Homo sapiens: one gene and its partners. The main gene of each other region encodes a partner of the protein of the gene in region 3 in a complex. Each region holds a gene or a part of one and is shown on either strand. Other genes may lie near its edges. A codon is read from its position in the direction of its gene.

Region 1 (6,976 bases), on a different chromosome or scaffold from region 3:
ACCTGGACCCCAGAGGAATTTGACGTTTTGATCAATATCTAAGTTCAAAATCTTTCCTAGGCTCAAGTCCTGCATTTAAAAAAAAAAGTATTTTTTTAAATTTCTGCATTTTATTTTCATGATTTTAGCATTTATTATGGACTACTTTAAAAATACAAAAAGAGGCCAGGCGCAGTGGCTCACGCCTATAATCCTAGCACTTTGGGAGGCCGAGGCGGGCGAATCACTTGAGGTCAGGAGTTCGAGACCAGCCTGGCCAACATACTGAAACCCCGTCTCTACTAAAAATACAAAAATTAGCCAGGCCTGGAGGCACGCACCTGTAATCCCAGCTACTAGGGAGGCTGAGGCAAGAGAATGGCTTGAACCTGGGAGACGGAGGTTGCAGTGAGCTGAAATTTTGCCACCACACTCCAGCCTGGGTGACAGAGTGAGACCCTGTTTAAAAAAAAAAAAAAAAAAGGTATGAGCAGTTGTATAATATGCTCTATCTGCCTCCTGGGTGGATACAAATAAAATAGGTAGGGTCTGAATAGACAGACATAAACAGAGGCTCTATTTGGAAAGACAGAAGACTGACAGTGGCTGGGCACTGTGGCTTACACATGTAATCTCAGTACTTTGGGAGGCTGAGGCAGGAAGATCACTTGAGCCCAGGAGTTCAAGACCAGCCTGGGCAACATGATGAAATCTCATCTCTACAAAAAATACAAAAATTAGCTGGGCATGGTGGCATGTGCGTAGTCCTAGCTACTCAGGAGGCTGAGGTGGGAGGATCGCTTAAGCCCAGAAGGTGGAGGCTGCAGTGAGCCCTGATGGTGCCACTGCACTCCAGCCTGGGCAATAGAGCAACACCCTGTCTTAAAAAAAAAAAAAAAAAAAAAGGCTGGGTGCGGTGGCTTGCACCTGTAATCCCAGCACTTTGGGAGGCCGAGGCGGGTCGATCACGAGGTGAGGGGATTGAGACCATTCTGCCCAACATGGTGAAACCCTGTCTCTACTAAAAATACAAATATTAGCTGGGCATGGTGGCGCATGCCTGTAATCCCGGATCATGAGGTCAGGAGATCGAGACCATCCTGGCTAAGATGGTGAAACCCCATCTCTACTAAAAATACAAAAACAAAATTAGCCAGACATGGTGGTGGGTGCCTGTAGTCCCAGCTACTCTGGAGGCTGAGGCAGGAGAATGGCATGAACCTGGGAGTCGGAGCTTGCAGTGAGCTGAGATAGCGCCCCTGCACTCCAGCCTGGGTGACAGAGCAAGATTCTGTCTCAAAAAAAAAAAAAAAAAACCAAAAAAAAAGAGGAAGACTGACAGTAATTACTGCCTCTGGCAAGAGAGAGGAAATCCAGGGTAGGAAAAAGACTTACTTTTCATTGAAAAATCTTTGGCACTGTTTGAATACTTATTTTTTAATAATATGAATTTTAAAAACAAGAATTATCAGTGGCTGGGCGCGGTGGCTCACACCTGTAATCTCAGCACTTTGGGAGGCCAAGGCAGGTGGATCACGAGGTCAGGAGACTGAGACCATTCTGCCCAATATGGTGAAATCCTGTCTGTACTAAAAATACAAATATTTGCTGGGCATGATGGCGCATGCCTGTAATCCCAGCTATTCCGGAAGCTGAGGCAGGAGAATCACTTGAACCCGGGAGGCAGAGGTTGCAGATCGCACTACTGTACCCCAGCCTGGCAACAGAGGGAGACTCCATCTCAAAACAAACAAACAAACAAACAAACAAATAAATAAAAAATCATCCAGGCTAGGTGGCTCATGCCTGTAATCCCAGCAGTTTGAGAGGCCAAGGCCGGTGGGTCACCTGAGGTCAGGAGTTCGAAACCAGCCTGACCAACACGGTGAAACCCCGTCTCTACCAAAAATACAAAAACTAGCCAGGCGTGGTGGCATGCACCTGTCATCCCAGCTACTCAGGAGGCTGAGGCCAGAGAATCGCTTGAACCTGGGAGGTGGAGGTTGCAGTGAGCCGAGATCGCGCCATTGCACTCCAGCCTGGGCAATAACAGTGAAACTCCAGCTCAAAAAAAAAAAAAAAAAGAATAAGTTTTTAAAGGTTGGGGTGCTTGGAGGATGAAATAAAGTAGAAGGGATGGCAGGTTTCCTTGGCACACTCCTTGGGCCTTAAGAAAGTGTAAAGAATAAGAAAAATACAACAAAAGGAAAACAACAAATATCAATGTATCCACCACTCAGCTTAATAAAGAAAATATAATAAACACAGGTGAAGCCTTTTTTGTGCTCCCCTTCTTCCCCACCACTTACCTCAGAGATAATCACTATACTGAATTAGGAGTTTGCCATTTCCTCAAATTTTAATTGAGTCCTGCATTTTTGACAAACATCTGGACGTCTCTATATGGGTATTTCACTCAGTATGGTTAAAAGCAAATTCAAGCTGGGCTTAGTGGCTCACACCTGTAATCCCAGCGCTTTGGGAGGCCGAGGTGGGTGGATCACTTGACCCCAAGTGTTTGAGAGCAACCTGGGCAACACGGCAAAAACCCATCTCTACAAAAAATACAAAACTTACCAGGCGTGCTGGCGCATGTCTGTAGTCCCAGCTACTTGGAAGGCTGAGGTGGGCAGATCACCTGAACCCAGGAGGTGGAGGCTGCAGTGAGCTGTGATTGTGTCACTGCACTCAGCCTGGGAGACAGAGTGAGACTCTGTCAAAAAAAAAAAAAAAGGCAAATTCAAGTGATCCATTTATGTAAACAGAAAAATGCACTATATAAATGTATCTATCTAGAATTCAGGGATCGGTGAAACAAAAGACATCGCATCGGCAGGTCTGTTTGCAACTTCTGGGATACACCAGGTGTTAGCGGTGATGACTTCTGGATGCTTGGACTGTGGATTTTTAAAATGGTTTTATCTGCTCATCTGTATTTCTAAATTTTCAACAATGGAACATAGATTATTGTATTATTATTATAATACCCCAAACCTATCTTCCTCTCAGCCCTCTTTCCACGAGCTCTTACCCTAAATGTCTCTTTTTCTGTCAGTGGCATTGTGCGTCTTCCTTAGTGCATCACCTCTGATCTTCCTGTAGAATTTTTTTTTTTTTTGAGATAGAGTCTTGCTTTGTCACCCAGGCTGGAGCGCAGTGGCCTGATCTTGGCTTACTGCAAACTCCGCCTCCTGGGTTCAAGCACGTCTCCCTGCCTCAGCCTCCTGAGTAGCTGGGATCATAGGTGCCTGCCACCATGCCTGACTAATTTTTGTATTTTTAGTAGAGACGGGGTTTCACCATGTTGGCCAGGCTGTTCTGGAACTCCTGACCTCAAGTGATCCACCTGCCTCGGCCTCCCAAAGTGCTGGGATTACAGGAGAGCGCCACGGCGCCCAGCTTACACCAGACTACTTTTTAAAATGTTTTTGTAAAGTCAGGGTTTCGCCATGTTGCCCAGGCTGATTTTGAACTCCTGGGCTCAAGCAATCCTTTTGCCTTTTGACTCCCAAAGTCCTGGGATTACAGGTGTGAACCCCTGCAGCTGGCCTCAATGTTAAGATCTTAAGGGGCACAGCACAGACCTTGTCTTGTCTATCTCCCTGGCACCTCTCACAGAGTACAGCTTATTAACAGATGTTCCAGAAACTGTTACTGAACATTCGGCTTGATGCTGTGGGCTTGTCTGCATCTTGCAACTGTCACCTGGCTGAGAAATTTCTTCTATAAATAAGCAGTTTCTGTTTCAGATGTGATATGCCCTGATATTTACACCCTGTCTCTTACCCCATCCAAGACTCAAACTTAGAAACTTGAATTAGATGTGGTATTCAAATCCTTAGCTGCCGCGAAGACACAGACAGCCCCCGTAAGAACCCACGAAGCAGGCGAAGTTCATTGTTCTCAACATTCTAGCTGCTCTTGCTGCATTTGCTCTGGAATTCTTGTAGAGATATTACTTGTCCTTCCAGGCTGTTCTTTCTGTAGCTCCCTTGTTTTCTTTTTGTGATCATGTTGCAGATGGCTGGGCAGTGCTCCCAAAATGAATATTTTGACAGTTTGTTGCATGCTTGCATACCTTGTCAACTTCGATGTTCTTCTAATACTCCTCCTCTAACATGTCAGCGTTATTGTAATGCAAGTAAGTAATATTGCTTGAACGATTATTCATTGGTGTGAACTATTCTGTCTATATGGACTGCTTATTCAGAGAATCAACATAATGGGCATGATGGTGAGTTTTCTTGAATCAAAAAGAGAAAGGAAGCAAGGCAGTGATTTTAATGTTTATGGAAACAAAGTAATTATTTGGAACTGAACTTGATATGATTCAGCACTATTAGCAACATAGATTTTTTTTAAAAATCAGCTCTTCTAATTAAGTGATATTTAGAATTTAAAAGTCAATGTTCATTAATTAAGGTGATTGAATGGAAATAATCCATACTTGATTATTTTGCTATCAAAACAATCCATAATTCATTATTTTAGCAAAATAATCAAGTATGACAGCCGGGTGCGGTGGATGGCTCACACCTGTAATCCCAGCACTTTGGGAGGCCGAGGTGGGTGAATCACCTGAGGTCGGCAGTTTGAGGCCAGCCTGGCCAACCTGGTGAAACCCTGTCTCTACTAAAAATACAAAAAATTAGCTGGGCATGGTGGCACAGGTCTGTAATCCCAGCTACTCGGGAGGCTGAGGCAGGAGAATTGTTTGAACTTGGGAGGTGGAGGTTGCAGTGAGCCGAGATCGCGCCACTGCACTCTAGCCTGGGCAACAGAGCAAGACTTTGTCTCAAAATAAATAAATAAATAATAACAATAAAGTATGTGAATATTATGTTATCAGCTCATTATCTGTCTGATGTTCTTTTCATAAAGGTGTGACCAATTCAGTGAAAGGAACGAATGCGATTCTCTGGACCTGTTTGGGACTGAGCTTAATAATTTCTTTGGCAGTTTTCGTGCTAATGTTTTTGCTAAGGAAGATAAACTCTGAACCATTAAAGGACGAGTTTAAAAACACAGGTTGGTTTGATGGTGAATCTTTGAAATCTATTTCCAGGGGATGGCTATTGTGAGTTTCAGTTCCTTTTCTTTTTTTAGCGTTGACTATTTCACTTCGTTACAGCCCTTTCGAATGTGTTAGAACATTGTTACATTAAATGAACTTGGTAGAGGTGAGCCATCTTCATTCTGATTTTGACACCTTGGCAGATTTTCTACAATGTCAGTCTTCTCCAGGATTCTTCCACTGTTAATTACTCTATTGAAAGTACTAAGGCTTTCTTGGGAAACATCAGTCTCTTTGACTAAAGTTAGCACATCGATTAAATGCCACATTATCAGAAACTCCTAGCCAGGTCTGCTACTGTCAGGAAAAGCATATTTGTCAAGATCTATGGTCATGTTTTTATACAAATATAGGTGTTCTTTGCTTGAGTGAACATTTTACTACTGAAAAATGTTAGAAATGAATAACCAGTTGCTCCTGAATTATTTGAGGAATCATCTAAAAAATAATTATTTTTAAGCAATAGAGAACCAGTCCCAGAAAAATGAATGTTCTACTTAAGTGCCTCTTAAGATAAAAATACTTCTGCAGCACCTTTGCTCATGATTGGATTCCCAAGCATGTACAGCCACTGCCCTATTTCTGTATGCATTTATTTATTTATTTATTTATTTATTTATTTATTTATTTAGAGATGGAGTCTCGCTCTGTGGCCCAGGCTGGAGTGCAGTGGCGTGATCTCAACTCACTGCAGCCTCTGCCTCTTGGGTTCAAACAATTCTCCCATCTCAGCCTCCTGAGTAACTGGGACTATAGGTATGTGCCATCACCTCCGACTAATTTTTGTACTTTTTGGTAGAGACAGGGTTTCATCATGTTGGCCAGGATGGTCTCAAGCTCCTGACCACAAGTGATCTGCCCGCCTCAGCTTCCCAAAGTGCTGGGATTACAGGCGTGAGCCACAGGGCCCAGCACATACTCATTCTTTTTTACTGAAAAGATCTGTTTCAAGCTGGGTGTGGTGGCATGGAGCTGTAGTCCCGACTGCTCTGTAGGCTAACGTGGGAGGATTGCTTGAGCCCAGGAGTTTGAATGCAGCCTGGGCAACACAGTAAGACCCCACCTCTAAAAAATGAAAAAATCTCTCTCACATTGCTTTGAGTCCCGATGTGTACTGCTAAGACTCTCATGACCACATTCTCTGTGAAGTTTGGGTTAATGTTTCCGTTTCTACATAATTAGGATCAGGTCTCCTGGGCATGGCTAACATTGACCTGGAAAAGAGCAGGACTGGTGATGAAATTATTCTTCCGAGAGGCCTCGAGTACACGGTGGAAGAATGCACCTGTGAAGACTGCATCAAGAGCAAACCGAAGGTCGACTCTGACCATTGCTTTCCACTCCCAGCTATGGAGGAAGGCGCAACCATTCTTGTCACCACGAAAACGAATGACTATTGCAAGAGCCTGCCAGCTGCTTTGAGTGCTACGGAGATAGAGAAATCAATTTCTGCTAGGTAATTAACCATTTCGACTCGAGCAGTGCCACTTTAAAAATCTTTTGTCAGAATAGATGATGTGTCAGATCTCTTTAGGATGACTGTATTTTTCAGTTGCCGATACAGCTTTTTGTCCTCTAACTGTGGAAACTCTTTATGTTAGATATATTTCTCTAGGTTACTGTTGGGAGCTTAATGGTAGAAACTTCCTTGGTTTCATGATTAAACTCTTTTTTTTCCTGACATCTAAGTTTTTATTAACGTGAGTTTTTAAAAACAAGCATGTATACCAGTGTGGGGGGTGAGGGTGGGAGAGAAAGGTGGGAGGGGGAAAGAATTCTAACCTATTGATAATAAAGCTCCAGTTTTGGCCAGGCGCGGTGGCTCATGCCTGTAATCCCAGCACTTTGAAAGGCCGAGGCGGGCAGATTACCTGAGGTCAGGAATTTGAGACCAGCCTGGCCAACATGGTGAAACCCTGTCTT
Region 2 (7,260 bases), on a different chromosome or scaffold from region 3:
AATGTGCTGTGTCTTGGAGCAGCTGGAACCCCAGGTGGACCCTGAGAGAGCTACCTGCCAGCATGTTCCTTCAGCTCGAGTTTGGAGTCCAGCCCTGGAGGCTGCGCACCTCCTCCCAAATGCAGGCTTGTGGCTCTGGAAGCTGCCACTGGGGTCAAAATGGCATCTTAGGTTCTGGCAGATTGGGCCAATCTCAGGGTTGACCCTGGGGTACAGATACCTGAGAATCAGCAAAATCCAGCTCAATCTTTTCTCCTTTGTTATTTCTTAAAATAATCTTGTACTAAATCCCAAAGCAAGCGAACCCATGAATTGATTATTCACTGCTGCCATTTGCATCAGTTTAAAAGCAGGACGGCTCTGAGGGCAGGTATTAAAGAAATAGAGGCCAGGCCCGGCGCCTCCTGCCTATAATCCCAGCCCTTCGGGGAGGACTGCCTGAGGCCAGGAGTTTGAGACTGGCCTGGGCAACATACCGAGACCCTGTCTTTAAAAAAAAAAAAAGGCCAGCCACGGTGGCTCACGCCTGTAATCCTAGCACTTTGGGAGGCTGAGGCGGGCGGATCACGAGGTCAGGAGATCGAGACCATCCTGGCTAATACGGTGACACCCCGTCTCTACTAAAAATACAAAAAAAATTAGCCGGGCGTGATGGCGGGCGCCTATAGTCCCAGCTACTCAGGAGGCTCAGGCAGGAGAATGGTGTGAACCCAGGAGGCGGAGCTTGAAGTGAGCCGAAATTGCGTCACTGCACTCCAGCCTAGGCGACAGAGCGAGACTCTGTCTCAAAAAAAAAAAAAAAAAAAAAATTAGCTGGGCAAGGTGGAGCACCTGTAGTCCCACCTACTCAGGAGGCTGAAGCAGAAAGATTGCTTGAGCCCAGGCTGCAATTAGCTGGGGACCCATCGTTGCACTCCAGCCTGCGTGATACAGCAAGACCCTGTCTCAAAAAAAACCAAAACACAAAACAAGGCCGGGCATGGTGGCTCATGCCTGTAATCCCAGCACTTTGGGAGGCCGAGCAGGGCGGATCACGAGGTCAGGAGATCGAGACCATCCTGGCCAACATGGTGAAATCCCGTCTCTACTAAAAATACAAAAATTAGCTGGCTGTGGTGGTGCGTGCCTGTAATCCCAGCTATTCGGGAGGCTGAGGCAGGAGAATCACTTGAACCAAGGAGTCGGAGGTTACAGTGAGGCGAGATCGCGCCACTGTACTCCAGCCTGGCGACAGAGCAAGACTCGTCTCAAAAAAAAAAAAAAAAAAAAAAAAAAAAAATCAAACAAACACAAAAAACCACCCAACTACAAATTAGGCATCCTCCCACTTGGTCTTTTTTCAGATTCATTTTGGCTTAATGGTGCCTTCCCCATTTTAAAAGCGGTCTTTTACTCATAGTGCCCCAGCCTTTTGAAGGCACAGGAACAGGAGCTGGGCTACCACCTTCAAGGGCTGTCAAAGATGGTGAGGTCTGAAGCCAAAGGCAAGCACACCAAACTCCATGGGGGCTGAATGCTGTGGTCTGTAGTGTCTGTGCTTCTGCAGAGTTAGCCTGGTCCCAGAAAGAGGGCATGTGCATGCTGGAGTGAAGAGCTGAATTTGATTTCCAAGCCCCTGGCTGGGGGTCCAGAGGGAGGGCAGGGGCCACCTCCTGCCGGCTCCCTGCTATTGTTGCTCAGGGCCGGCCGTCTTGGTGGTCACCAGTTCAGTGGAGCCCAGCTCTGTGGCTGGCACAGGGACACTGTGGCCAGGTGGGGTGGTTCCTGGGTCTTCCCCAGGAGGAGGCCAGGCAGGAGCTGTGGCATCAGAGATTCCCGGAGACAGAATGATGACCTTGTCCAGGGGCTCTGGGGCTGCAGGCAGAGGGGGTAGAGGCTCCGTACTCAGTCACAGCCTTCCCTCCCTCCCCTAGAAGACTCCTCTGGAGGGGCAGTCCTCCGTCAAATGAAGCCCAATGCAGGGTGGGGAGGGGTGGCACCTGGCTGACCCTGAGTCCAGAGGCCTGGCCAGTGGGGAGCTGGCAGGGCAGGGAGTTGGGGAGCTGGGGCTCAGTCTGGCAAACTCTTCAGGGATTTATGGGGGAACCAAGCTCCGTTAGACTCCCAAAGGGCAGGACAGACTCCTCCCTCAGACGGGGCCCCCTTCCTGCAACCTGTCTCTTCCTCACACTGGGGTCTGTCAGGGCAGAGCTGTTCCTGGCTCCGACCAGGGTCTCAGGGGCAGGACTATGTCTCCCTCCCCAGCCTGAGCTCCTCAGCGCAAACTCTTTTCCACTCTGTCTCCGTTTCCCCTTAAAGCCCTTCTCTCCCCCTCAGGGGCCATGCATCTCCCCCTAGACCGTCCCGACACCCCAGCCCCTGCGCCCCGCTCAGACTGGTTCCCCTACACACGGAACTCACCGTCCTTGTCTCCGTCGGGGGCCTCTGCGGAGGACGCGCCGCGAAGCCGCCGCTGTCGCCGCCTCCAGCTCACCAGACCCACCAGGACCAGCGCCAGGACCAGTGCCAGGCCCAGCAGCGCGGGGGCGCCAAAGAGCAGCCCGGGCAGGGGCAGCGCCGCCTCGCCGGCCCCCGCGCCCACCGACTCCTGCGGCTGCAGCGCCGTCCTGGGCGCAGGGCTGCTGGCCCCGGCTGCTTCGGGAGGGGACAGGGAGGGAGGCCAGGGGGCCGAGGGGAGGGAGGAGCGGGGACGGGGAGGGGCGGAGGGGGGCGAGGCTGGCCGGGGAGGGGAGGGACAGCCGGGGGGCGGTGGACAAGGGGAGGGAGAGAGGCGGCGGTGAGGGCCACGCGGTGATCGCGGGCCCCTCCAGGCCCTGCCCACAGGGTCCTTTCAGCCCTCGGCGCCCCCGGGGGTCGGGGCTCTGCCTGCGCCCTGGCGATCGGGGCCCCGTTCTCCCCGCAGCTGCCGGCGCCGCGCGCCCCGTGGGTCCCCCTTACCCGGTTTCGGCCGCGGCGTGCGCAGGAGCCCGCAGGCCACGCAGTGGCGGACCAGCAGGTCGAAGCACTCGGCCGGGACGCAGGGCGTGGGGGCTGGCGCGTCCCTGCCCCGCAGGCTCCGGGGCCCTCGCCTCATGGTGCCGACGCCGCCGCACAAGCTGCGGGGACTGAGGCTGAGCTGGGCTCCGGGGCCCTCGGGGAGGAAGCGGGGGGCGGGGGGAGCACTCTGCCCTGCCCCGCCCCCGCCTGCTGGGTGGGACCGAGCTCGCCTGGGGCCCCCCTTTCTTTTCTTTTTTTTTTTTTGAGACGGAGTCTCGCTCTGTCGCCCAGGCTGGAGTGCAATGGCGCTATCTCGGCTCACTGCAAGCTCTGCCTCCCGGGTTCAAACAATTCTCTGCCTCAGCCTCCCGAGTAGCTGAGATTGTAGGCGCCCACTGCCACGCCCGGCTAATTTTTGTATTTTTAGTAGAGACGGGGTTTCACCATCTTGGTCAGACTGGTTTTGAACTCCTGACCTCGTGATCCACCTGCCTCGGCCTCCCAAAGTGCTAGGATTACAGGCGTGAGCCACCGCACCCGGCCTGGCCTCTCTTTCTACCTGTGGTTCCCCAATTCAGCCCCTCAACCAGCACCGCCTGGGTGGGCCCTCTGCTGGGTGCTGGGAGGTGTCTGGGGGCAGACCAGAGCCTCCTCTTGGGTAGGGAGGGGGATGGACCCCGCAGCCAGGACACAGACCCTGAGTGGTTCCTCTGCTCCGTCTAGCCAAAGCCTCTCCATGACCCCGAGTGCTCCCCTGCCATCTCCCCCAACCCACCTGTCTCCTCCTCTCTTCCTGCCCTTCCTGGACAGAGCTGGTTGGGGATATCAGACACCTGCTTTTTTTTTTTTTTTTTTTGAAAAAGAGTCTGGCTCTGTGCAGTGGTGCAATCTCGGCTCACTGCAACCTCTGCCTCCCAGATTCAAGCGATTCTCCTGCCTCAGCCTCCCGAGTAACTGGGATTACAGGCATGCACCACCATGCCCGGCTAATTTTTGTATTTTTAGTAGAGGTGGGGTTTCACCATTTGGCCAGGCTGGTCTCGAACTCCTGACCTCAGGTGATCCGCCCTCCTCGGCCTCCCAAAGTGCTGGGATTATAGGTGTGAAGCCACAGTGCCCAGCCTGACATCAGACACTTGTACCAGGCCCAAGTAGCATGTGGGTCTGCCCTGAGGGAATCTCACACTTGTGCTGATGGGGGAAGACAGCCTCGCAGCAAGGGCACCAGCTCACGTCATCCTGGAAGGTGGGCCGGAAGGCTTCATGGAGAGGGCGATGGTGAAGTGTTTGCCAGATGGACTGAGGTCTAGGGAGCAGATGGGGGTGAAGGCCAAAGGGGAGCAAAGGCTTGGAGGCCCAAACAGGAAGTCCAGGGAGTGCTGGGACCGAAAGGCTGGACTGGGGCCTTATCTAGCACATTAGGGAGCTTGGACTGTGGCTGGGGGACACGAGGGAGCCACTGGGGCTTTGTGCAGGGAGGACCCAGGAAGATCTGCCTATGAGTGAGGGAACTGTGACTGCAGTGGAGGGAAGCCCGCCCACACCTGCTCCTTTTCTCCAGGGCTATGTGTCCTCTCCTGCTCACCTCTGTGTCTCACTGCGGGCCCCTCCTGTCTATCTCTGCTCCCCAGTGTTTGGGGTCCCCAACTGTCTGTCACCCGTGTCTCTCTCAGACTGCGTCTCAGAAACACACACAAGCCCCTCCGCCCTCCTGGTCACATGCTACCCCCTCCCCAGGGCCAGGGCTGGAGGGAACTCTGGGAGCTCAGGGCTCAGCAGAGAGCATGGGGTTAAATGCCACACATGCCACCCAGACCCCTAAGCACTCAGGGCTGGGGAAGCACAGTGAGAGGAGAAACTCAGGGGCTGGGGAGGGAGCCTGGGGGCAGAGGGAGACCCTGAGCAGCAGCGAGGGGGAGGCAAACACTCCAGGCGGAGGGCTGCAGGGGCTAAGGCTTGGAGAGATGAAAGGGGAGCCTGAGCTGCTCTGGGGGCAGGCATGGCCACTGCCACAGGGGATGCTGGGAGGGAGGAGGGAGCATCCGGGCTGCGGATGGGCAGGGCACCAGTCCCGGGGCAGTACAGAACCTGGGGGTGTCTGGGTAGGAGGGAGATTCTGAGCTGTACCTGCAAGGGTCCCTCTCTCTGGCACTGTGGCCCACGTCCAGGGCAGGTGGCCCAGGGCAGGGGATGATGCAGCGGCTGGCCATGGAGTGAGGGGAGCAAGGCCGACCCCCAGGTTTCCAGCTTGGGAGACCCTGAAGGTTCACAAAGAACCCCAGTCAGCCAGCCCTGACTGGTGGGCGCTGGCCCACCCTCTCCATCCCCTGTACATGGGCCAGCAGCTCCCAGGCAGGAAGGTGTGGGCGGAGGGGAGCTGCAAAGGAGAAGTGGGGCTGGGGGCAGGTGTGGGTGAGCGTGGGTGTATGGTGATGTGGGGGTGGGGGCAGGTGTGGGTGAGCGTGGGTGTACGGTACAGGGATGGGGGACAGGACCCTGGAGGGGAGCCAGGGCAGGGAAGGCCTCTCTGTGAGGCAGAGAGGTGGGGACAAAGCCAGAAGACTGAGCCATAACCCTGCCACCCACATACACGTCCATCCATGTTGGTGCTGGTATTACCCATTAGTGAGGGCTGCAGAGGCCTGACTGAGTACCAGGCAGCTCATTTAGCCCTTGTGCCAGCCATGTGGGCAGACTGAGGCTTGTGGGAACCCAGGAACGGGGAACCTGTCCCTGGAGAGGGTGGCCCAGTGAGGCCAGAGTCGGGAGAATTTACAGGAGTTAGGAGGAGGGGGTCCGCCTGCCCCAGGTCTGCGTTTCACAGCAGAAGCACTGGCTGCTCTGACCCCCAGCAGAGACTCGAGGAGACTGCTCTCAAGGCCAGAGAGAGTGGGAGGGCTGGAGCCCACTGTCAGAGTTCCAGGGTCCCTTACCTTGGCCAGAGAGGGAGGCCAGCTGCTAAGAGCAGCAGACACAAATGAGACACCCACTCATGTGACACAAATGTTTGCTGGGCGCTCCCTATGTGCTGGGCCAGGTGCCGGGACAAAAGGCCTGCGGGATTCGTGTCTGTGTTGTGTGCAGGTGCCTGGCCTCACATGAACCTTTCCACTTGGGCCTCCTAAATGGGGTGGGGGTGGGGGGCTGCAGCAGGCCCTGTGTCGCTACTTGGATGACAAAACAGTTAAGAAGAATTCACAATCAGACCAATGTGGGGAATGTTAGTTTACTCCTCAATGTATTCTTATTTCCCCGTGGCTTTTTTTTTTTTTTTTTTTTTTTTTTGAGACGGAGTCTCTCTCTGTCGCCCAGGCTGGAGTGCAGTGGCGCAATCTCCGCTCACTGCAAGCTCCGCCTCCCAGGTTCACGCCATTCTCCTGCCTCAGCCTCCCGAGTAGCTGGGACTACAGGCGCCCGCCACCATGCCCGGCAAATTTTTTGTATTTTTAGTAGAGACGGGGTTTCACCGTTAGCCAGGATGGTCTTGATCTCCTCACCTCGAGATCTGCCCGCCTCGCCCTCCCAAAGTGATGGGATTACAGACGTGAGCCACCGCGTCCCTTTTTTTTTTGAGACGGAGTCTGGCTCTGTCACCCAGGCTGGAGTGCAGTGGCGTGATCTCGGCTCACTGCAGCCTCTGCCTCCTGGGTTCAAGCCATTCTCCTGCCTCAGCCTCCCACGTAGCTGGGACTACAGGCACGGGCCACCATGCCTGGCTAAATTTTTTTGTATTTTTAGTAGAAATGGGGTTTCACCATGCTAGCCAGGCTGGTCTTGAACTCCTGACCTCAAGTGATCCACCCACCTTGGCCAACACGCCTGGCCTAATTTCTTTTCTTTTTTTTTGAGATGGAGTTTCACTCTTATCGCCCAGGCTGGAATACAGCAGTGCGATAAGCAACACCCAACTCAGCTCACTGCAACACCCAACTCCCAGGTTCAAGCGATTCTCCTGCCTCAGCCTCCTGAGTACGTGGGATTACAGGCACCTGCCACCAGGCCCGGCTAATTTTTTGTATTTTTAGGAGAGGTGGGGTTTCGCCATGTTGGGGAGGCTAGTCTCAAACTCCTGACCTCAGGTGATCTGCCCACTTTGGCCTCCCAAAGTGCTGGGATTACAGGCATGAGCCACCACTCCTGGCCTAATTTCTTTATTCAAGTCTTTTTTTTTTTTTTTTGAGATGGAGTCTCGCTCTGTTGCCCAGGCTGGAATGCAATGGCACGATCTTGGCTCACTGCAACCTCCACCTCCTGGGTTCAAGCGATTCTCGTGCCTCAGCCACC
Region 3 (7,106 bases):
TATATATCATATATATAAATCAATGGGCAAATATAAAGTAACTTTAAGAATAATGTCATGCAATCAATGTAAAAAGTATAATTGATTTAGTGTTTCTGGAAGAGTGGGTTTCTAGCTTTGTGTTCTCAGTTTCTTTATTATTTCTACTCAAGTAACTAAAATGATAAATTTTTGCTTTTTAGTCACTCAAGACTGCTTGCAACTGATTGCAGACAGTGAAACACCAACTATACAAAAAGGTAATAAAATATAGCAAAGACTTGGAACCAAGCCAAATGTCCATCAATGATAGACTGGATTAAGAAAATGTGGCACATATACGCTATGGAATACTATGCAGCCATAAAAAATGATGAGTTCATGTCCTTTGTAGGGACATGGATGAAGCTGGAAACCATCATTCTCAGCAAGCTATCGCATGTTCTCACTCATAGGTGGGAACTGAACAATGAGAACACATGGATACAGGAAGGGGAACATCACACACCGGGGCCTGTTGTGGGGTGGGGGGAGGGGGGAGGGATAGCATTAGGAGATATACCTACTGTTAAATGACGAGTTAATGGGTGCAGCACACCAACATGGCACATGTATACATATGAAACTAACCTGCATGTTGTGCACATGTACCCTAAAACTTAAAGTATAATAAAAACAAATAAAATATCCCCAGTACTTTTTCCACTTAGAATTCAGTCCACTCCAAATATTTGTAAGTTTCAAGTCTAAAGACTGTATTTGAATTGCATGTAAAATCAATCAGCCATCTCAGAACTTCTTATAATCAGGTAAAAAATAATAAACCTACATTTATTCAAAATGACTTGGGAATAAATAATAATTAAGACCAAAGTAATAATCTAATAAGGAGAATGACCTTAGAGGCACGAATACTTAGAAATGTTAAATAATTAAACTACAATAAAATAAAAACCAATAATAAATCAAATTCCATTTTTATTATTTAGACAGCATTTTATCTTTAAGAATGACTCAAGACCATCTTCACAAATATGAATTCTCCTGTTATATTCAATTGTAAAAATCATAGAAAGAGGAAAATAAAACTGAACAGATTATTAAAAATCTGTATTTTTAAAATAAATTTCCAACATCAAATTATTGCTTGATAATTTACCGTTTTCTCACAGAGGTAGAATGTTTTACATTTTTCAGTTATTTGAAGCCTTTTTTAGTTTTAATTTTAGACAAGTTAAGTGTTTTCCATAATAATGGCCTGAAACCAGGTTTACAAAGAAACAACTTTTAATGTCATTTCCCAATATGTGTCACCTAGAATGTTAATCCAGAGAAATGGTCCTTGAAATAAGAGTTTCAGTGTCGTATAAGTTTGGAAACACAGCATCTTACATATTTTTCTTTGAGTCACAAGGCACATTAGCAAGTTATTGAATCTAAGTAGTCCTACTTTAAAAAATGTTTGTTTAACTTTGTTTCATCCAGTTTTTCACAAATTTTTGTGACTATGCTGCTTTATCATGTATCGACCTCTCTCTGAAAGCAAATGGGAATTGATGCTCTATAATAGCATTTGTTTATATAAGATAACTAGTGAACAAAAATGTACTAAAAAAGAACCATTCGTTCACTCACACATTCATTGATTCATTTAGTTTACATTTATTAATTAAGAATATACAATATTTTAATTACTGTATGTTTACTGGGTGTATCAGTGACTAAAATATGCACAAATGCTCCTTGGCTTACAATGGAGTTATGTCCTGATAAACCCATCCTAAGCTGAAAATAACGGGCCTTGAAAAAAGCAGTTAGGACATCTAACTTACCAAATATCATAGCTTAGTCTAGCCTACCATAAATGTGCTCAGAACACTTACATTAGTCTACAATTGGGCAAAATCATCTAACATGAAGCCCATTTTATAGTAAAGTATTGAGTAGCTCATGTTGTGTTTTGAATACTGGAATGAAGTATGATTTCTCCTGAATGTATGTGGCTTTCACACCTTTGTAAAGTTGAAGATTCTAAGCCAAACCATCGCAAGTCCATATGCATGGTTTTCTACTTTGAAAGAGCTTACCTCTTGATGAGGAGAAAACAAACGAAAGGCCCAACAACCCACAAATGAACAAGTAAAATGTAGATGAGACGAAATGCTGTGGAGGGCAGCAAAGCAGGCGGGGGCAGGAGAAAGTTTTGTGTTGTGAACGAACTACGAGTTCAGGAGTATCTGGAGGTTAGGCTAGGCGATGAGGAATGGGCAAAACAACACTAGCACAGATGATGAATGTGAGTTGGCACTGGTAATGATTCCCTGGCATGCTCTTTTCATCTGTGTTTTTTTCTGCGTGACTTTAATTGTCCTAAATGCAACACAAGTACTAAACTACTTGTAAATCTATTATTTATTGTTCAACATTTTCCTAAATCATGTTTGCAACTTTTAATAAGCAGCACACTGTTTCCTAAGAAGTAAAAGAAAGCCAGAAGATCTTAAGGGCCAAAGTTACAGTTTTTAAAAATTCTTTTGAAAAGGTTTACTTTACACATCTCTCCCCCACCCCCCAAAATGCTATAAATTGCACCAAATTATGCAGCTGCTATACTCCAATGTGCGTGTGAACTGGAGAGTATGCTGTGATCTTCCTGGAGTGGTGACTGCTTGCCACAGATCCAGGGGTGCTGAACTGGGGTGATTACCTGGGATGCTTGCTTGCAGTGCTCCAACCTTTAGGATGGACAGGTTGCCCTTGTGATGTCAGCAAACCCTTGACCAGTATATAAATGTGAGTGTGCATGGGCATTTAGCAGGCAGATTGCATTTAGCAGGTAGGTTGCATTTTGTTAAAAAAGGCTGTACTCACTAAAGCATTTTACTTGCACAGGTCCATAAGAAGACTTCTGGGAAAAGATAATAATATATTATTAATATTATTAGCATATTATATGTAATTATATATTATATAATATATAATGTATTATAATAATTATATATAATAATATATTATTATCTTCTGGGGAAAGAATTTATATATATAAATATTATTAGCATATTGTATATATTATCTTATTGTATTATACATAACATCAGGTCTTGAGATGAAATCATGTTATGTATTCCAGAGACATGGAGATTCAAAGGAGCGGGGCTACGTTCATCTGATATTTTGAGTTCCTATGCTTGCTCTGCCCCATACTTTTGTCCAGACAGTGAGGGCAGAGGTAAACTTCACAAAAGAGAAAAAGACAAGAGGGGTTTATCAGAGTGTAGTCTCATGTCTTTTCTGTTCATTTGTTTTTTTGAATTTTAATCTAGATTTTGAATAGGTAATGCATTCACACGTTGCAAAAAATAAAAAAGCATGAAGAGTGTGGATTGCTCCTTTTCCCATCTGTTCCTGCCCACACTCACCTCACTTTCAGTTTCCTACATAGACTTCAGACTCCCTCTATGTTAACACAAACAAATGCAAATGTAGCTCTGCTTCCCTCCTTTCTTATAGTAAACACTTAAAAACCATATTTTCAATACATATGATTTGAAAATGAGATTATAACCTGCATTCTTTACTTAACAATGTATATTGCAGACATTTTGATGCCTGTGTACAGAGATCCTCATATGAAAAAAAAAGCAGCATAGTATTCCATTGTATGAATTGAATGTATTTAACCAGTCTCCTACCAATAGACTTCTTGGTGTCCATCTTTTGCAATGCAGGTGCTTCGAAAAATAATTGTGTGCATCCGTAACTTCTCATATGTCAGCCTATGTGTGGGACAGATTTTGAATTTTGACAGTTATTGCTAAGTGGTCCTATAGGGGTTGTAAAGTGTTATGCTATCACTTGCAGCAAAAGAGCATCAGGTGAAAAATAGCATCTCTTAATTTGCTTTCTTTCAAGCCATTCTTTTGTATGTTTTAAGAACCATTTGTATTTCTGTCTTTACATTCTTCCAATTTTTCATGTCTATTTTTATTTTTTTCTGTGAGCCATCTGTTCATATTTTTTTCCATTTTTTCGTTGGACTTGGTCATTTTTAAACTGATTTCTGTGAGCACCTTATATCTCAAGCAGATTAATTCTTTATATTACTAATTGCAAGCATTTCCTCCCATACTGTCATTTGTCTTAATTTTGCATACTTTTTTTTTCTGTCAAATTTGTCAATTTTTTTAAAGGATTCTGGATTTGGGTTGTGATTAGAAAGACCTTTTACACTTAAACGTATTAAGGAAAGATCTCGTGTTCCTTCTGAAACCTTTATAGTTATTTTCTACCTTTAAATACTTTATCTATTTGCAATTTATCCTGGTATAAGATGTAAGGTATGAAACCAACTTAATTTTCCCCTGTGAGGGCATCACAGTCTTTTTTTAATCGCCCATCTTTTCCAGACTGCTTGAAGACATTAACTTTAACTTTTATTAAATTCCATGTTTAGTCTATGTTTTTTTCACTTTTTAAATACTTTTCTGTTATACCATATTGACTTAATGTCTATTTATGCACCCCAATAAAATGGCATTTTGGTTACTAGGGCTTTGTATTATTTTCTGGTAAATTTAATTCACTCATTTTTTCTTTTTACTTCTAGAATTTTTCTTTTTTTTCTATTAAATATAGGAACTGTAGAATCAGCTTACTTAGTTAAAAAGAAAAAGAAAAATACGTGCTATTTTTGTTGAATCTCATATTTATAAATTAAGAAAAATACCCTCATGATAACAGATGTACAGATCAAATCCAAGAACATGATATATATTTATATTTTTTTAGTCTCCTTTTTTTTCTTTTAGTATGTATTGAAATTTTCTTCAAGAAGTTCTTGCATATTTCTTATTAATATCATTACAAAGTGTTTTACCTTTTCAAATGCTATGATAAATAGAAACATTTTCTTTCATTATATTTTCCAGCTGGTTGTTCTTTTTGTGTATAAAAGCCTTGAATTCCATGATATATCTTTTCAATATTAAAGTTGAAATGTTTTCTTTTATTTTTGGATTGCATTTCCCTAGCATGACTTTGCCCAAAATTTTACTTTTAACTTCTCTGAAATAATTTTTCTGTGTTTCTCATGTATGCAAAACAGAGTTGCTCTTTGTTTTTTGATATCATCTTAAAATAATTTTCATTTATTGGGTGATATAAATCAATTTACATTTACTTATTTCAGAAATGTATTTGGCTTTTATTCATCATAATGTGCTATACTGTGTATTGTTTTTCATGTTAACAAAAGAGTTTCTATTTTATAGTTTTAAAGAGGTTGCTTACTATGTAGGCTATTTGCTTTGCTTTTTCTGTTAGCGTAGACTTCTAAATGCTAAATACTAGGGGTAGCTACCTTTTCAGTTATATCTTTTTATTGAAATTAAATTCATATAACATAAAATTAAATGCACAATTCATTGTAATGTAGTATTCACAATATTTTACAACCACCAACTCTCTCTAGCTCCAAAATATTTTCTTCAGCCCCAGAGAAAATCCTGTATCCATTAAGCAATCAGTTACCATTTCTCTGTCTCCCCATGCCCCTGTACCAGCAATCTGCTTTATGTCTCTGTGGATTCACCTATTTTAGATGGTTTATATAAAGGCAGTCACACAATACGTGACTTTTAGTGCCTGGCTTCTTTCACTTAGCATGATGTTTTGAGGTTCACCCACATTCTAGCATGTATTCATACTTCATGCCTCTGTATGAATGTATATCATTCTATTATAAGTAAGCCATAATTTCATTAAGGGTATTTGGTTTGTTTCCACCTTTTGGCTATTGTGAGTAGTGATCCTGTGAACATTTGCATAAAGTACTTCCTGAGTGCCTCTTTTCAATTATTTGGAGTATACATCGATGAATCGATGAGTAGAATTGCTGAGAAAATGTCAACCTGTTCTCTACAGTGCTGCAACATTTTGCCTTCCCCCCAGCAATGTACTAGTGTTCTAATTTTTCCACATCCTCACTGACACATCTTATTTTCAATGTTTTTATTAGTATTGCCTTCCTACTGGGTGTGAAGCCATATCTCTGTTATTTATTTGCATTTTCCTTATGACTGATGATGTTGAGCATCTTTTCATGTCCTTTTTGGTGTCTTCTTTGGAAAAATGTCTATTCAAGTACCTTGTCCATGTGTTTTAATTGGGTTGTTTGTCTTTTTGTTGTTGAGTTGTAAAACTTCCTTATATATTATGGATACAAGACCCTTATCAAATATCTGATTTGCAAGTATTTTCTCCTCTTTTGTGGATTATCTTTTTACTTTCTTGAGAATGTCATTTGAGGCACAAGAGTGTTGTACATCAGATAAATGAAGTAAAATTTATCTTTTTTTTGTTTCTTGTGATTTTAGTGTTATCATTGAAGAACTCATTGCCAAATTCAACATCATGATTCACCCATATGTTTTCTTCTAAGAGTCTTGTAGTTTTATGTCTTATATTTAGGTAATTAATCTATTTTAATTCATTTTTGTATATGGTGTGAAGCAGAGGTCCAAAATCATCTTTTAGCATGAGGATATCTAGTTGTCCCAACATCATTTGTTGAAGAAGATGATTTCTTCCACATTGAACGGTCTTGGCACACTTGTTAAAAATCAGTTGTACGTAGATGTATGGGTTTATTTCTGTACTCTCAAATTTATTTTGTTTCTTTATACACCTCGCCTTATGCTGGACCACTATACTATTTGGATTACTGTTATGTTATAGTAAATTTTGAAATTTAGGATAGTGAATCCTTCAATCTTGTTATTTATTTTTAAGATTGTTTTGGCTATTTGATACTCTTTTGCAATAACAAATGAATTGTAAGGCTGGCTTTTTCATTTTGGAGAACAAAAGGTCACTGAAATTTGTATATGGATTAGACTGAATCTGTACATAATACTGAGTATTACTGCCATCTTAAACTAAATCTATCAATCCATGAACACAAGATATCTTCTCTTTTATTTATATGTCCTATCATTTCTTATAGCAATCTTTTGTAGTGTTCAGTGTTAAAGTGTTTTATGTCCTTGGGTAAATTTACTTCTAGGTGTTATGTTCTTTTGAATGCTGTTTAGTCAGTTCAGTTTGCTATAACATATTACACTAGACTG

What was found.
Region 1: the proteins of TNFSF13B (region 3) and TNFRSF17 are in contact, whole or in part, in a crystal structure (PDB 1OQD), measured with the Homo sapiens proteins. Residues at the interface, in NP_006564.1 of Homo sapiens: Ser162, Tyr163, Lys204, Thr205, Tyr206, Ala207, Met208, Gly209, His210, Arg231, Cys232, Ile233, Glu238, Pro264, Arg265, Glu266, Asn267; in NP_001183.2 of Homo sapiens: Tyr13 (codon at 4,027), Asp15 (codon at 4,033), Ser16 (codon at 4,036), Leu17 (codon at 4,039), Leu18 (codon at 4,042), His19 (codon at 4,045), Ile22 (codon at 4,054), Arg27 (codon at 4,069), Ser29 (codon at 4,075), Ser30 (codon at 4,078), Asn31 (codon at 4,081), Thr32 (codon at 4,084), Pro33 (codon at 4,087), Pro34 (codon at 4,090), Leu35 (codon at 4,093).
Region 2: the proteins of TNFSF13B (region 3) and TNFRSF13C are in contact, whole or in part, in a crystal structure (PDB 1OQE), measured with the Homo sapiens proteins. Residues at the interface, in NP_006564.1 of Homo sapiens: Ser162, Tyr163, Asp203, Thr205, Tyr206, Ala207, Met208, Gly209, His210, Leu211, Thr228, Arg231, Cys232, Ile233, Pro264, Arg265, Glu266, Asn267, Ala268; in NP_443177.1 of Homo sapiens: Asp26 (codon at 2,998), Leu27 (codon at 2,995), Leu28 (codon at 2,992), Val29 (codon at 2,989), Arg30 (codon at 2,986), Val33 (codon at 2,977), Leu37 (codon at 2,965), Leu38 (codon at 2,962), Arg39 (codon at 2,959), Pro41 (codon at 2,953), Arg42 (codon at 2,950).

Annotation. Positions count from the first base shown.
Region 1 is NC_000016.10:11,961,335-11,968,310, forward strand, and holds TNFRSF17 (tumor necrosis factor receptor superfamily member 17), read left to right. Parts: upstream 1-3,875; 5' UTR 3,876-3,990; coding exon 3,991-4,120; intron 4,121-4,860; coding exon 4,861-5,007; intron 5,008-6,235; coding exon 6,236-6,513; 3' UTR 6,514-6,734; downstream 6,735-6,976. UniProt on the Homo sapiens protein: Receptor for TNFSF13B/BLyS/BAFF and TNFSF13/APRIL. Promotes B-cell survival and plays a role in the regulation of humoral immunity. Activates NF-kappa-B and JNK.
Region 2 is NC_000022.11:41,923,701-41,930,960, forward strand, and holds the start of TNFRSF13C (tumor necrosis factor receptor superfamily member 13C), read right to left. Parts: upstream 3,107-7,260; 5' UTR 3,074-3,106; coding exon 2,938-3,073; intron 2,632-2,937; coding exon 2,401-2,631; intron 1,855-2,400; coding exon 1,667-1,854; 3' UTR 1-1,666. Other genes in the region: CENPM (centromere protein M), read right to left, coding at 4,105-4,282, 5,104-5,234. UniProt on the Homo sapiens protein: B-cell receptor specific for TNFSF13B/TALL1/BAFF/BLyS. Promotes the survival of mature B-cells and the B-cell response.
Region 3 is NC_000013.11:108,286,621-108,293,726, forward strand, and holds part of TNFSF13B (tumor necrosis factor ligand superfamily member 13B), read left to right. Parts: intron 1-182; coding exon 183-239; intron 240-7,106. UniProt on the Homo sapiens protein: Cytokine that binds to TNFRSF13B/TACI and TNFRSF17/BCMA. TNFSF13/APRIL binds to the same 2 receptors. Together, they form a 2 ligands -2 receptors pathway involved in the stimulation of B- and T-cell function and the regulation of humoral immunity.